Regions from separate parts of the Homo sapiens genome. Here regions 2 and 3 are each linked to region 1. Evidence: fine-mapped expression QTL. A gene starts in region 1. Each other region holds a variant in brackets. All regions are shown on one strand. Distances are between the middles of the regions.

Region 1 (4,243 bases):
ATTTTACTTCCCCAAGTATGCAAGTATTGGGGCTACATAGACAAACAGAACTTCCTAGAAAAATGCATTCAAAATTCCCGAAAAACAGACCTATTGTAAAATAACTCATTATAAATTGATAGTATATTGTTATGCAAACAACAGATACACTGAAGTGAGGTGCTAAAGAATGACAGCAGGCATAATCTGGTAGATTAAATTAAAGTGGCACATCTTGGAAAGCTGTGTTTTATATTTACACATTTGGTGAAAGAATGGGATAAACAAAGGTATATTTCCAAGAAAGTTTTGCAAGGCCTTACCACCTCAAAGAAGAGGTAGGGCAGGAAAGGAGGAAATGGGCAGAAAATGAGGGGGGGGAATAAAAAGAAGCAGGGCTTATTTTTCCAAATAGCACTAATTCTTGGTTATCTGACTAGATCAGAGGATTGGGTAACAATGTGAGGTCAATGCTTGTAATGCCATTTAAGTCACATTCATCACTTCAGGGCATGGCTATGTGTGAATCTAGAATCAGAATTAGGCACCAAGCTCATTTAGAAGTTTAATAAATTTAATTTTAATGAGACATCTTGTTTGGTATTAAAATTCATGAGACTCCCAGAACAGGTTCTCTGGACCTTTATTAGAGGATAAGAAATTTATTTGACAATTTAACTTTTTGACCACCGGAGTAGGAAAATTCATGTCTACAAACTATACCTATGTATCCCACAAGCTTTCTGAAATTGAGTCATTTCAAATTTAGTAGCTGCATACACCGTTGGCTCCAATTAGTGACCTCTACGGGGATTTTTTTTTTCCTTTGGAATTCATCAGTTTACACCTCTGTGTTCATAAAATGAAGAGAATGGTTTCTGCATGCCTTTTTAAAAGGAAACACTGCTAGGGAATTACCCAGCAATATGATGAGCAGAAACAAGGTCACATTCACAATTTAAGATGAGCTCAACATCATTTATATTTAGAACTGGATCAATCCAGAATCGTTTCTCAGCTTGGCTTATTAGCTGTGTGACCTTGGGCAAGTAGCTTTACCTCTCTGAGCTGCAGGGTTTTTTTTTTTTTTTTTTTTTTAATTAGTGACATGCAAATACTTCCTCCTAACTTGCAGGGTTTTGAAATGAAGGAATGATATACGTAACCAAGCAGGTCAGCTGTCTACAAAGAGTATGCAGACATGTTTATAGATATATGAAGCCTCCTGGTGATTATGTGTCATAGTGTTAACTGTGTCAAGGCTTTCGGTAGAGCTCAGCATAGTTCTGTCTTGAGTTAAAAACAGGGTTTTATTCTTTGAATTCTACTTGAATTCCTCTTGGCTGGTGAAGTTCACATGTGCTAAGACTGACTACCTTAGTACACTGCCAAGGGTTTCTTAATGCCTCGGATTGATAGAGCAGCTGTTCTCAAACGTTCACGCGCTTAAAATGCAGATTCTGATTGGGCAGGGGTAGGGTGGGGCCCCAGCTTCTACATTTACAAGTAGCCCACAGGTGATGTCCCCGGTGCTGGTCACCCTAGGCAGCCAGGCCACTTGACGGACCTTCTGTGCCTCTACACTGTTGACGGCGCGGGATAATTCCTTATGGTTGCATAGGGCACTCCTGTGCACTGCGGGAAGTTTAACAGTATCACTGGTCTGGACTCCACTAGATGCCAGTGACCCCATCACTCCTCGCCAGCTGTGACAGCCAAAATGTCTCCTGACATCGCCATTGCCAGATGCCCTCAGGGCTGCAAAACCGCCAGGTAGAGAACCGCTACCATGCAGGATGCTACCATCAAAGTGCGCCCACAGCAGCAACCTTGGAGCAGGCAGGCAAGTATCCTCCAGGCTACTTTGCAGACGGGGAAGCTGAGGCTGGGCACCGCTCAAGGTCGCACGCATGCGTAACCGAAAAGAGAGCGCGGAGGTCCCGCCGCGCCTCGCTCTGAGGAGAGGACGCGGAGCCGCGCGCCCGCCCGGTGGACCCCAGGGACTGCTCCCACGTGCTCCGGCCCCACGCGCGGGCCGCCGACCGGAAGCGGGTGCTGGGGCCGCGTAGACGCCGCGGCCACGCGCGCCCGCCAGCCCGGACATGGGCCCGCGGGCGCTCCTGGCCGCCGCCCGACTTCGGGGCCAGCCGGGGGCAGAGCGCGCGGGAGCCCGAGCGTCCCTGCATGAACACCGCCCCGCCGCGGCCCCCAGGCCGTGACGTACCCCGCGCCGACCGTCCCCACGCCCACACAAGACCGCCCTTACTGGAGGCGGCGGCTGCACACTACCCACCCAGAAGAAGTCCGTCCATGTCAAAGATGAGGTGGGTGACGGGCTGCGGGGGCGCCGCCATGGTGGCGCCTTCTGGGTCTGGGTGGGGGCGAGGAGGAAGTGCGCGCGCACCCGCCCGCCCCGCGCACGCGCACTGAGGACCTTCTCGCGCGCCCGGGGTCGCTCTGCGCACGCGCCTTCCGCGGCCCCTCGCCCGGCTCCGAGCCCGCGCGTCCTGGGCTGCCTAGTGGCGCTCCGCGCACGCGCACCTTGGGCTTTCGCCGCAGCTGTAGCTGCAGACCCGGGATGCGGCGCGGGCCGGCGCTGTATGTTTACCCGCATCAATTCCTCCTCACTTCACACCCGGAATCGGGCCAAGCTACTCAGCCAGCGGCCGCGCAGAGCCGAGGCCCTCGTCTGGGGACAAATTCAGTGCTTGAGTTTGGATCAGGGGTGTGAATGAGGAAGGAGGGACAGTACAAGGGGCTGTAGAGTGGGGAAAGGGGATTGAAGATGCTCAGGGTGGTATCACTTCTAGCCATCAGGTTGCAGACAAATGGCCTTGGTCAGGAGGTCCCTGGGTGGGTTCGCCCGAGCCCCCAGTCCCTGGACCGTGGGTGGGTTTTTCTCAGTTTCGCTTGCCCGCCTCCTTGCGGTCCTGGACCGCGACTTGAACCGGCAGCCGCGCATGCGCAGTGTGCGGAGAGGCTGCACAACCTCCGTGCCTGCATCTCTGAGCATCCCAGGCTGGTGCATTGTCCCAGAGCAAAGCCAAGCTGCTCAAGGAGGATGCTGAAATAATACTAACAGTCAACATGTCTTGCTGGTTGTGCCTTCTTAGGTATCATCTGTCTTTTGGGCTGCTCTGAGTTTTCTTTCTTTTTTAACTTTTCAAATGCCACCTAAACAGCTTTCTTTTTTTTTTTTCCCGTTTGCCATCGTCAAAAAAATACTTTTTTGTCCCTGTTTCTATTTCGTGTTCGTTTATGTGGTATATTCACGTTTAAGGAAAAGGATTGGACCTTTTGAGAAGCGGAAATAGGAGAATTTCAAGACTTTAAAAACGTGAGGGTGTGCTGGGCGCAGTGGCCCACACCTGTAATCCCAGTACTTAGGGAGGCAGAAGTGGGAGTTGGGGGAATAGTTTGAGCCCAGAAGTTTAAGAACTGCCTGGGCAATATAGCGAGACCCTGTTCTCCACAAAAGGGGAAAAAGACAAAAAAAAAAAGGTGTAAACATGAGAGTGTATTTCTAGTTTAGTGCAGACATAGTGGACAGGGGCATGCCTGGATTCAGCAAGAATTATTATCTATGATAGACAAAGTGCACCTGTGTCTGTTTCCTCCTGGGTAAAATGGAGGTGATAAAGGAGGTGAGGCAGGCCAAGCCCTTAGTACCAGTGCATAATATATAGTCAATAAAATTATGTGTTCTTAGAGGTGGTACTATAAGAGAGCTTCCCCCATTTAATGCAATCGTGATTTCCCTTTGAGGACACGGGATTTCAGAGAAGGCAATTTATGAGCAAATTAGGTAGGGACTTGCGCCTCAAATACAGTCGTTCGTGGTTTCTGTATTAGTTTACTACAGCTGCCATAGTAATATACCACAGACTAAGTAACCTAAACAGCAGATGTGTATTGTGTCACAGATCTGGAGGCCAGAAGTCCTAGATCAAGATGTCAGCAGTCTTAATTCCTTCTGAGGGCTGTGAGGAAAGGACCTATTCCAGGTCTTTCTCCTCAGCTTGAACCTGCTTTCCTTTCCCTGTATCTTGTCCTATCGTCTTCCCTCTGTGTGTGTCTCTGTGTCCAAATTTTCTCCTTTTATAAGAACACGATTCTTATTGGACTAAGGACCACCCTAATAACTACATTTTAATTTGATTACCTCTGACAAAATCCTGTTTCCAAATAAGGTCACATTCTGAGGTAGCGGGGATGAGGACTCCAACATATATTTTTGGGAACACAATTCCATAATAGATGCATT
Region 2 (4,243 bases), 140 kb before region 1:
TCCATTCTTCACAGGGCTTGATTTCCAAGACTCTCTACCATCTTGGCCACACACCATGTTACACATTCACTATGGACACTGCACCACTGTGGATGCTGCACCACTGCGGATGCTGTACCAAGAGTTCTGAATCCAAGGGCAGATTGTTATGAACAGCCCCTTTAAAAGTCTTAAACTTGATACACTGGTCTGTCAGCAGATGTGCAGAGCCTCTTATGGGAGACACAATTTTTGACTCATGTGATTCAATGTCCATAAATCTTCATCCAAAAGATGCCCATAGAGACAAAGAGCAGAGTAAAGTCCTTGCAGCAGTGTTTCTCAAACTTAGCCACCCACCAGAACTGCCTGGGGAACTATAAAAGATACCCATGCTGAATCCCACCCACCACGATTCTGGTGTAATGCTATGGGGTGAGATCTGGACATCAGGATGTTTGGAATCTCCCCAGGCTCATTGAACATGCAACCAAGACTGAAGCCCACTGTCCTCAGTAATGTGCCCAGCCCGGCCTTCCTGGCATCCCCTCATGGGTACAGGATGACAGTTTCTCACTCTGACCCTTTCCTTTATTCAATACAGCACAGCACAATCCAAGAGGGTGAGCACTGTTATGACAGAGAACCTGGAGTCGGACCTGATTAAATGTCTTCAACAAAACCAGTGCCAAGCCTTGGCCATTCAACTATCAATTACTACTTTCAACCCAGGTTCTAAAGGCTCTTCATTAGAAACATCTCGGGTTGGTAATGATTGGGGCAAATGTGCCCTTTGGATTTGATTGCTACCATGATTATTAATTAACCAAATTGTAGAGATATTGAGTACATTTCTCCCTCTTGTTTGTAAGAACCCATGAGAGACAAGGCCAATTGCAGACAATGGGGACGTCCTCATGATAGTGAGATGAACTGCCTAGCTATCTTCCAATATCGTTACTTCCCTCCAGTTTTGTTGCTTGCAAAACAACAGAATCTTCTCTCCATGAAATCATGGGTATCAGTTAGGAAGTAGCCCACTTGGTTCTGGATTTCGTTTAGAGATTTAAGATAGTAACAGAGGGTGCAGGATGACGAACAGCATTTGTACACTGTGTCTGGTAGTGGAAAATACCCAACAGTGTACTGTATGCTGACTCTGTCATTTCCTGCCTTCTCTCCTCCTTTCTTCCCTCCCTCGCTCCCTCCCTCTCTCCCTCCCTCCTTCCTTCCCTCATGAAAGCATAGCTCCTTTGCCATTCTTTCCTCCAGTCACAAGCCATCTACTTATGCACATCACCATGCTCATGCCATTACCAGGGGACTTTCTATCAGCATGAAGACATGAAAATGCCTGGGGAAGAAAAGGTGTGGGGAGCAGGCAGCACCCCTGCAACTGCCCGGTAGCATTTATACATTGCTCTTCCACCTTGGTTTCTATCCATGGCTTTCCTCGTCAGAGCATGTTCACTTTAACCTCCTCTAGAGCAATTTCTTGGATCCTTCAAGGGCTTGAGAACTAAACACAATTTCAAAAGAAACTGAGTAGGCACCTACCTTCTGGAAACAACATCCATAGAAAAGACTTGATTGCTATGGTCTGATTTATGAACCTGTGGCTCATATCAAGATTAGCATTTGCACTAGCATTAAGGTATTTTCATTGAGATCATTTATGTTTTGAAATAAATACTACAACATCAAGGAACTGTATCAGTTGGAGAATAGAAGTGTGTATGATTTGTGTATATAAACATGCACATCAAAGCATTTATTTATTTCAGAGAGTTGTATAACACCGTTAGAGTAAAAATTGAGTGATTCTCTTCTATTTCTGACCCTACTTCTAATGTCTTCTCTGTCCCTCTGTGCAAAACCATTTAAACCTTTTATCTTGGTTTCCTTTGTGAGAAAATGGGGATAATAGATACCCCTGAGCCATTCTGGAGACGTGTTTTGATGCCAGCCCAGTTATGTGATTATAGGAGAAAAAAGCTTTGAGCTTTTGGCACTTAGGTGCTACATAAATATTATTAGCAAGCTGCTGAGATTTTATCTTTGGAAACTAACAAGCATTTCTCTTCTAAAGCCTCATATCTTTAGCCCCTGGACACATGTTCCTGATAGCTCTCTCTTTACAGAGATCCCCTTGGCTCCACAAGGATAGAGAGTTCTTTGCTGAGAGAGTCACTGCCGCACGCTCAGATGAAAGGTATTCATTCTGCTTGGCAGAGTCATCGGTAGAGTAGCTGCTGATCCCAGCAAGGCAGGGTGGGTGATGGGAAGGGATTAGATTAGGAAGAAAAGGGATCCTCTTGTTCTCTCA[C/G]TGAGGGGACTTTAAACCTGCAGAAGCACATCAGTGAGCGGACTATGGGTAAGTGCCAATGTGCAAAGTCGATGGTGCACACGTTACAGGTTGGTGAGAGATGATGCCACTCAGACCTGAGTGCACCGTGGAACTCTCTTGACTTCTCTCTGCAAATGGGTTGCTCCTGGATGTATAGAGTTATTCTACAGGAGTCCTGCTCCTAACTCATCAGAAACGTAATGTCCTCTGTTGATCTCAAAGGCATTTTCTTCTGTTAAAAGTATTATCCATTCAGCAATATGGAGAAAGGTCATTTGTGAAAATAAAATAGAAATGTCTGATGGTAGTGGGGGTGGGGGGTGTAATTTCCTCCCTATGTGAGTAGCATTAAGTTCACTCTTAATTTTTTTCTTCATTTCTGTAATTGGAGACTGATTTATCAAGAGGATATAGAATTCAATGACTAATTCCATTAAATGCTTAAAGAATAAAATAAAGGTAGAACTCAAAAGGCTTATTCCTGATTAGTTTTCAAGATGTGTCTAGGCACAGGAAGTTAAAAATAATACCACAGTGAATGCTCTGACCCAGTGCTAACAAAAGCTTCTTTTTTTCGGTGAGACTTGGCATAGAAAAGCACACATGTCATTCAGCAGTCCTGAAAAATGATGACTGAGATTTGGACTGGTTTTCCAGGGAATAAAATTGAGTGACTTTTTAAAAAGTTCTACTCCTAGAATCCGGGATCTAATCAATCCAATATCAACTTCAAGGGAATAGGCCAACAACCAGAGATGAAATTAGAAGAAAAATAATTAGAATAGCAAGCATAGGTTGGTTTTCCATGCTATGATTCTGCAGCAAAGGTGGTAATTTGGGAATACTGATTTGGGGAATCTCTTGTCATGGGAATAAGTTGTCAGCTTTGCTGAGTGTCTCCGGTGAGCTAAAACTGATTAAAACAGAGTGCTGGCCCTGGTATGTAAGCTCTAATCTATACTCCATATCTACCACTAGCCATTTTGAAGGAGGAGAGTTCCCTGATCCACCTCACAGGAAGTGCAACAGGCGTGTGGCTCGCCCGCTTGGTCGCTCAAACCCCTGATGGGAGATGGAGCACACAGATGGGCAGGTGCGGGGGCTGGAGTGAGTGCTTTGGGCTCCAGCCCCGCAGTAGTGTCTGGGGAGGGGGGGTGCCTGCAGCCTAAGGTTTACAATGCTCTTTTAGTCTTGCTGTCTGCAAATGGCTTAAGTGTTAACCAGCTCAATAGACCCTCTGCCTTTTCACAAGGGCAGAGGGCCAGTGTGACAGCTTTCTGTATTCCCAGCTTTTGCCCAGTGTCCCAGAAGAATTGGGTCACACACACAGGCTTGAAGGATGAATGTGGGGTTTTACTGAATGGTGGAGGTGGCTCTCAGCAGGATGGATGGGGAGCTGGAAGGGGGAATGGAGTGAGAAGATGATCTTCCCCTGGAGTTTGGTCATCCAGCAGCCAAAATTCCCTCTGACCACCCCCAGTTTAACTCCTGGCATTCACACGTTCCTTCCCTTCTCTCTTTCTCTGCCGTGTCATCTGCCATTTGTCTGCTTGTCTCCTCATCTCCTCATCTGCTTCTGGAGCCTGGGGTTTGGGGTTTATATGGGTACAGGATAGGGGGACATGGCAGGCAAAAAGGCAACTTTTCCCACTTAGGGCCGCGGGTCTCCAGGCTTGAGGGTGGGGACTTTGCTGGGGAACTGCCTTCTTTACCCAGTATTTCCCTGTCTCCTGTCCATATCAATTTCATGAATGTGTGGTCACAACATGAACCCAGAATTTGGAGGTTGGAAAGTAGGAGTGAATGCACTCAATCTACTAGGGTGCCAATTCGTAGCATCTAATTTGGTAATGATGAATTAGCAATAGAATCTTTTGGTAGGGGCAGACTTGGCGAATCTTCAAATGTAGCAGGATT
Region 3 (4,243 bases), 92 kb after region 1:
AGATAGATAGATAGATAGATAGATAGATAGATAGATAGATAGATAGCACATTGTTTTTATCCAGTCATCGTTGATGGACATTTACATTGATTCCATCTCCTTAGCTCCAGGTAGATTCAGAGAAAAAGCATCAGATTATAGAAGCATAAACATCACAGGGTTTTAGACATGATAGGAGCCTTTTTATTGTACAGCTGTAGAAACAGGGACCTGCAAAGACTGGGTGACATGTCCAAATGTTGACAGCTAGTTAGCAGCAGCAACAGGATGGCAGCTACCATCTCTGGATCCATTGCTGATTGTCCTCCCCTCCATCTCATGATGCATCAACTGGAGCAATGACAGAGAAGGGGGAAAATAAGGGGAAAGCCAGGAGTGGTGGCTGACACCTGTAATCCCAGCTACATAGGAGGCCAAGGTGGGAGGATTCCATGAGTCCAAGAGTTTGTGATAAACCTGGACTACATAGCGAGAACCCATCTCTACAAAAATTTTTTTAAAAATTAGCTAGGTGTGGTGGTGCATGCCCGTAGTCCTAGCTACTCAGGAGGCTAAGGCAGGAGGATTGCTTGAGCTGGGGAGTTCAAGGCTGCAGTGAGCTGTGATCGTACCACTGTGCTCCAATCTGGGTGACAGAGTGAGACCTTGTCTCTAAAAATTGTGTTTTTAATTTAAAAAATTAAAAAATCAGCAGGAACCAATAGAATCTTCACACATGCAACACTTAGTGTGTCTTCACTAAGTGAAGACTTCAGTGTAAAGACTTCAAATGTAAACAAACAGGTTAGGCAAGGCTTACTTTTTTAAACATAATTTTTAATTAGTATTTTATTAATACTCAATGTATATTATAATGAATTCAACTATACTAGGTATAATTGATTGTATTGAGAAATACAAAGACCAATGCACCAGGTACTGTTGTATAGTCGATAGAAACAGATTCGCTAAATCAATAAAACATGAACATTTATTTTAGAAAAATCACAAGTGATTTAAATAGGTATTTAAATCTATAGAAAAGTCTGTTTAGACACAATTTCAGAATGGGTTTTTTCTGTCCTCATGTCAGACTATTTTTCTTTATCGATTTAAAACAGGACCTTTGTTGGATAATAGCACTTTGTGAATCAAATTTCACCAGTGTACATACCTTGGATTGAACGAAGCTGCTTTTCTTCTAAAAAATATTGTTTGTCGTGCAAGTTTTTCTCTGTTTTTAATAAGCCTTCTTCCCCATCGAGCAAATAGATCAGGAACATTTTCTTTGCTGTGGTTAAAGTTTCTGTTACGTAAGCACATTGTTAATTTTCTTCTAATGAACAAATTTAATATAATTACATCTCTAGTTATAAAAATGTTCCTTTGTCTCTCTCTTTCCTAATGATGCTGTTGTAGGAATAGCTGCTTTCTCCACAAAAAAAGTTTTTCGTGCTCTTTTGCCAAATTAAGTTTGTTCAGAAAAATAATTTTTAAAGGGAAAATTATGCAGTTTTTCAGAAGTTAATGTGCCATGTTCTTAATATTTTGGAGTGGAGCAGCTTTATTTAATTTTAAGTACTTTTATGTTAACTGACTCTGTTTCAGTTTTTTGAAACCTCTTTATCAATACCTTCTTGTAAGCCAGGCTTGTAGGAAAGAAAAAGCAAAGTCCACTTACTTCTGCTGGTAATAATTTATATACAGTGGGATTCTAAGTGGCTTTTTTTTTTTTTTTTTGAGACCGAGTGTCACTCACTCTGTCACCCAGGCTGGAGTGTTGTGTCTCGATCTCGGCTCACTGCAACCTCCGCCTCCCAGGCTCAAGCGATTCTCCTGCCTCAGCCTCCCGAGTAGCTGGGACTACAGGCAAGCACCACCACGCCCGGCAGATTTTTTGTACTTTTAGTAGAGACACGGTTTCACCATGTTGACCAGGCTGGTCTCAAGTGATCCACCTGCCTTGACCTCCCAAATTGCTGAGATTACAGGTGTGAGCCACCCTGACCAGCCTTAAGTGGCTCTTAACAAACTTAAATTTTCACACATTCTTAATTGGGCTAGATGGTATTTCTCATCCTAGTCCTGATAATATCTACCTCCAGGCACATTTTGGAGGTATAATGAATGATATGCTGAGCTAACCAAAATCATTTTGTGATTCAGAGATTAATATAGGCATGAAAAATTATTAATGGGCTTTTATCCTATTGTGTTCAATTTCAATAAAATGGTCTGCACCTGAACTAACCCTTTTACCACAAAGCATAGAAAATGGAAATGAATCTTCTCCAAGGAGCGCGCGCGCACACACACACACACACACAGATATGTATGTGTGTGTGTGTGTGTGTGTGTGTGTGTGTGTGTGT[G/GTA]TGTATATATATATATATATATAAAATGGATCCCTTCTATGATGGCATCTTGGTGTGGAACAAATTCATAATCTTAATCCTCCAGTATTTTTAATTGTTCCCTACCCAGCTAATGGGACCAGTATCTTTCCAAGGAACAAGGCTGAAGTCATCATTGACTGTTGCCTCTTTCTGACACTTCACATCCAGGCAATTACCAGCTCATGTTGATTGTGTCTCAAATCGGCTCAGTTCTCTCCAGTTCTCTCCCACCTGCCCCTGTGCTAGTCTGGACCAGCTTCCTTGGGGGGTTATGGCCATTGTCGTGCGATCCACTCCAGTTTCTGCCCAACCCTTCTGCCAGGGAGCAACCAGAATGCCTGCGGGAGTGAAACGAAACCATGCCTGTCATCCCTAGTGTCCTCAATCTCTGCTTCATCACTTCTGGATAAAGATAAATGCCCCAAACCTAAAACAACAGAAAGGAAAAAGATAAATGCCCTCCATGTCTGATCACGATGATTTATCCTGACCTCTTCTCCACCTCACAGTCAGACTTTTGCATGGAAAAAATAACCAACCAACCAATGCGCACAGTTTGTAGGAATACTGCAACATCAGCAACTTATACAATAATGATAAAAAACAAAGAACATGGAGAGAAACACACATATTACCTGAGTGGCTCTCTGAGTGGCTGGTTGATGTTTCTCTTTTGTACATTTATAATAGTAAAAATACAACAAAACATTTATTTAAAAAAATCAATTTTTGTGTACAAAAATCACAAAGCATAATAGTCCAAAGTAGGTCTCTAAATAGCTAGGTTTTTTTGGTGAGATTTTAGTTAGTCCTCATATAGAGCCTGAATTTTGCTCTATTTAATCTCTTTTTTAGCCATTTCCCTTTGGTCTACCCTAAATGCCCTTTTCTAATTCAGGTGCTTTCAACTTTCAGTTATAAAACAAAAATTCATTTTTACATGGTTGCTGAGCAGAGACATGTGTCCTTAAATTGCTTATATAAATTCTGAGACTCATTACTAATGAAACATGTTCTTAAAATAAGTTCAACATGACATTTCAGAGCCGCTGTCCTGGGGAGCTTTTTTCTCGTCCTCATTGACAAAATTGACCTTCTCACCTCAAGCTATTGGAGTTATCTACTACTGTGTAACAAATTACCCCAAAACTTAGCAGCTTAAAGCAACTTGCGTTTGTTATCTCATTGTTTCTGTAGGTCAAAAATCTGGGCACAGCTTAGCTGGATCCTCCTTAGCTTCTACGTCTCTTTCAGGCTACTTCAGGTGTCATGGCTGTGGTCTCATCTGTGGTCCAAAAGTAGCAGGATCTCTTTCCAAGCTCATTCAGATAGTTGCAGGCAGGACTTAGTTCCTTGCAGGATGTTCACCTGAAAGCCTCATTTTTTTTTGCTGGCTGTTGGCTGGACACTTCTCTCTTTTTCTTATAACATGGGTCTCTCCACAATGGCCACTTACTTCATCCACAGCCAGCAAGCGATAGAGTTTGCCAGCAAGATAGAGGTCATAGTCTTTTACAACCCAATCACAGAATTGACATCTCATCACTTTTTCCATATCCTACTCATTGGAAGTAAATCACTAGGTCCAGCCCATACTCAACAGGAGGCGATTGTATCAGATGTGAATACCAGAAGGGAAGTCACTGGGGCCACTTTTAGTTGGCTGACCACATTTTTGTTCAAAACTCTATTAGTGTACTTATTATACTCTACATAACATTTTATTATTATTAATAGTTGTAATTTTAATAATAACTTTATAAGTTAATAATAACTTAATATTATTAAATAACTATAATGAACAACTATGGCCTCTTACTATGATTCCCTTGCTGAATCAATAAGTACTAAGAACCCAGAAGGAGAGACCC

Alleles and levels. Positions count from the first base shown, and alleles are read on the strand shown. Sizes are in standard deviations (SD) of each study's normalised expression. Not every link is listed here.
For the expression in B cells of the gene that starts at base 2,373 in region 1, GTA is the high allele of the variant in region 3 and G is the other (moderate effect, 0.62 SD a copy in CEDAR).

Evidence for each region. PIP is the estimated chance that this variant, and not a neighbour inherited with it, causes the effect.
Region 2: its variant is the best candidate, but not a certain one, in a credible set for the expression of PUDP in tibial artery (GTEx, PIP 0.84).
Region 3: its variant is the best candidate, but not a certain one, in a credible set for the expression of PUDP in B cells (CEDAR, PIP 0.52).

What each region holds. Positions count from the first base shown.
Region 1 is chrX:7,145,781-7,150,023 of GRCh38, forward strand. It overlaps PUDP (pseudouridine 5'-phosphatase), which reads right to left and starts at 2,373. Exons shown (of 4, transcript NM_012080.5): 1 at 2,273-2,373. The coding sequence starts at 2,333. STS (steroid sulfatase) reads left to right here and starts at 1,932. Exons shown (of 11, transcript NM_001320752.2): 1 at 1,932-2,303. MIR4767 (microRNA 4767) reads left to right here and starts at 2,080; the gene lies at 2,080-2,157. RefSeq lists a silencer at 1,893-2,612 and an enhancer at 2,803-2,852.
Region 2 is chrX:7,010,303-7,014,545 of GRCh38, forward strand. It overlaps LOC107987331 (a long non-coding RNA gene), which reads left to right and starts at 2,197. Exons shown (of 3, transcript XR_001755781.2): 1 at 2,197-2,353. It also overlaps a transcript of PUDP not described here. The variant C/G (reference allele first, on the strand shown) is at 2,306.
Region 3 is chrX:7,238,180-7,242,422 of GRCh38, forward strand. All of the region lies in intron 2 of STS (steroid sulfatase), which reads left to right. Among named protein-coding and RNA genes, the nearest start is that of PUDP, 92 kb to the left of the region's middle. The variant G/GTA (reference allele first, on the strand shown) is at 2,352.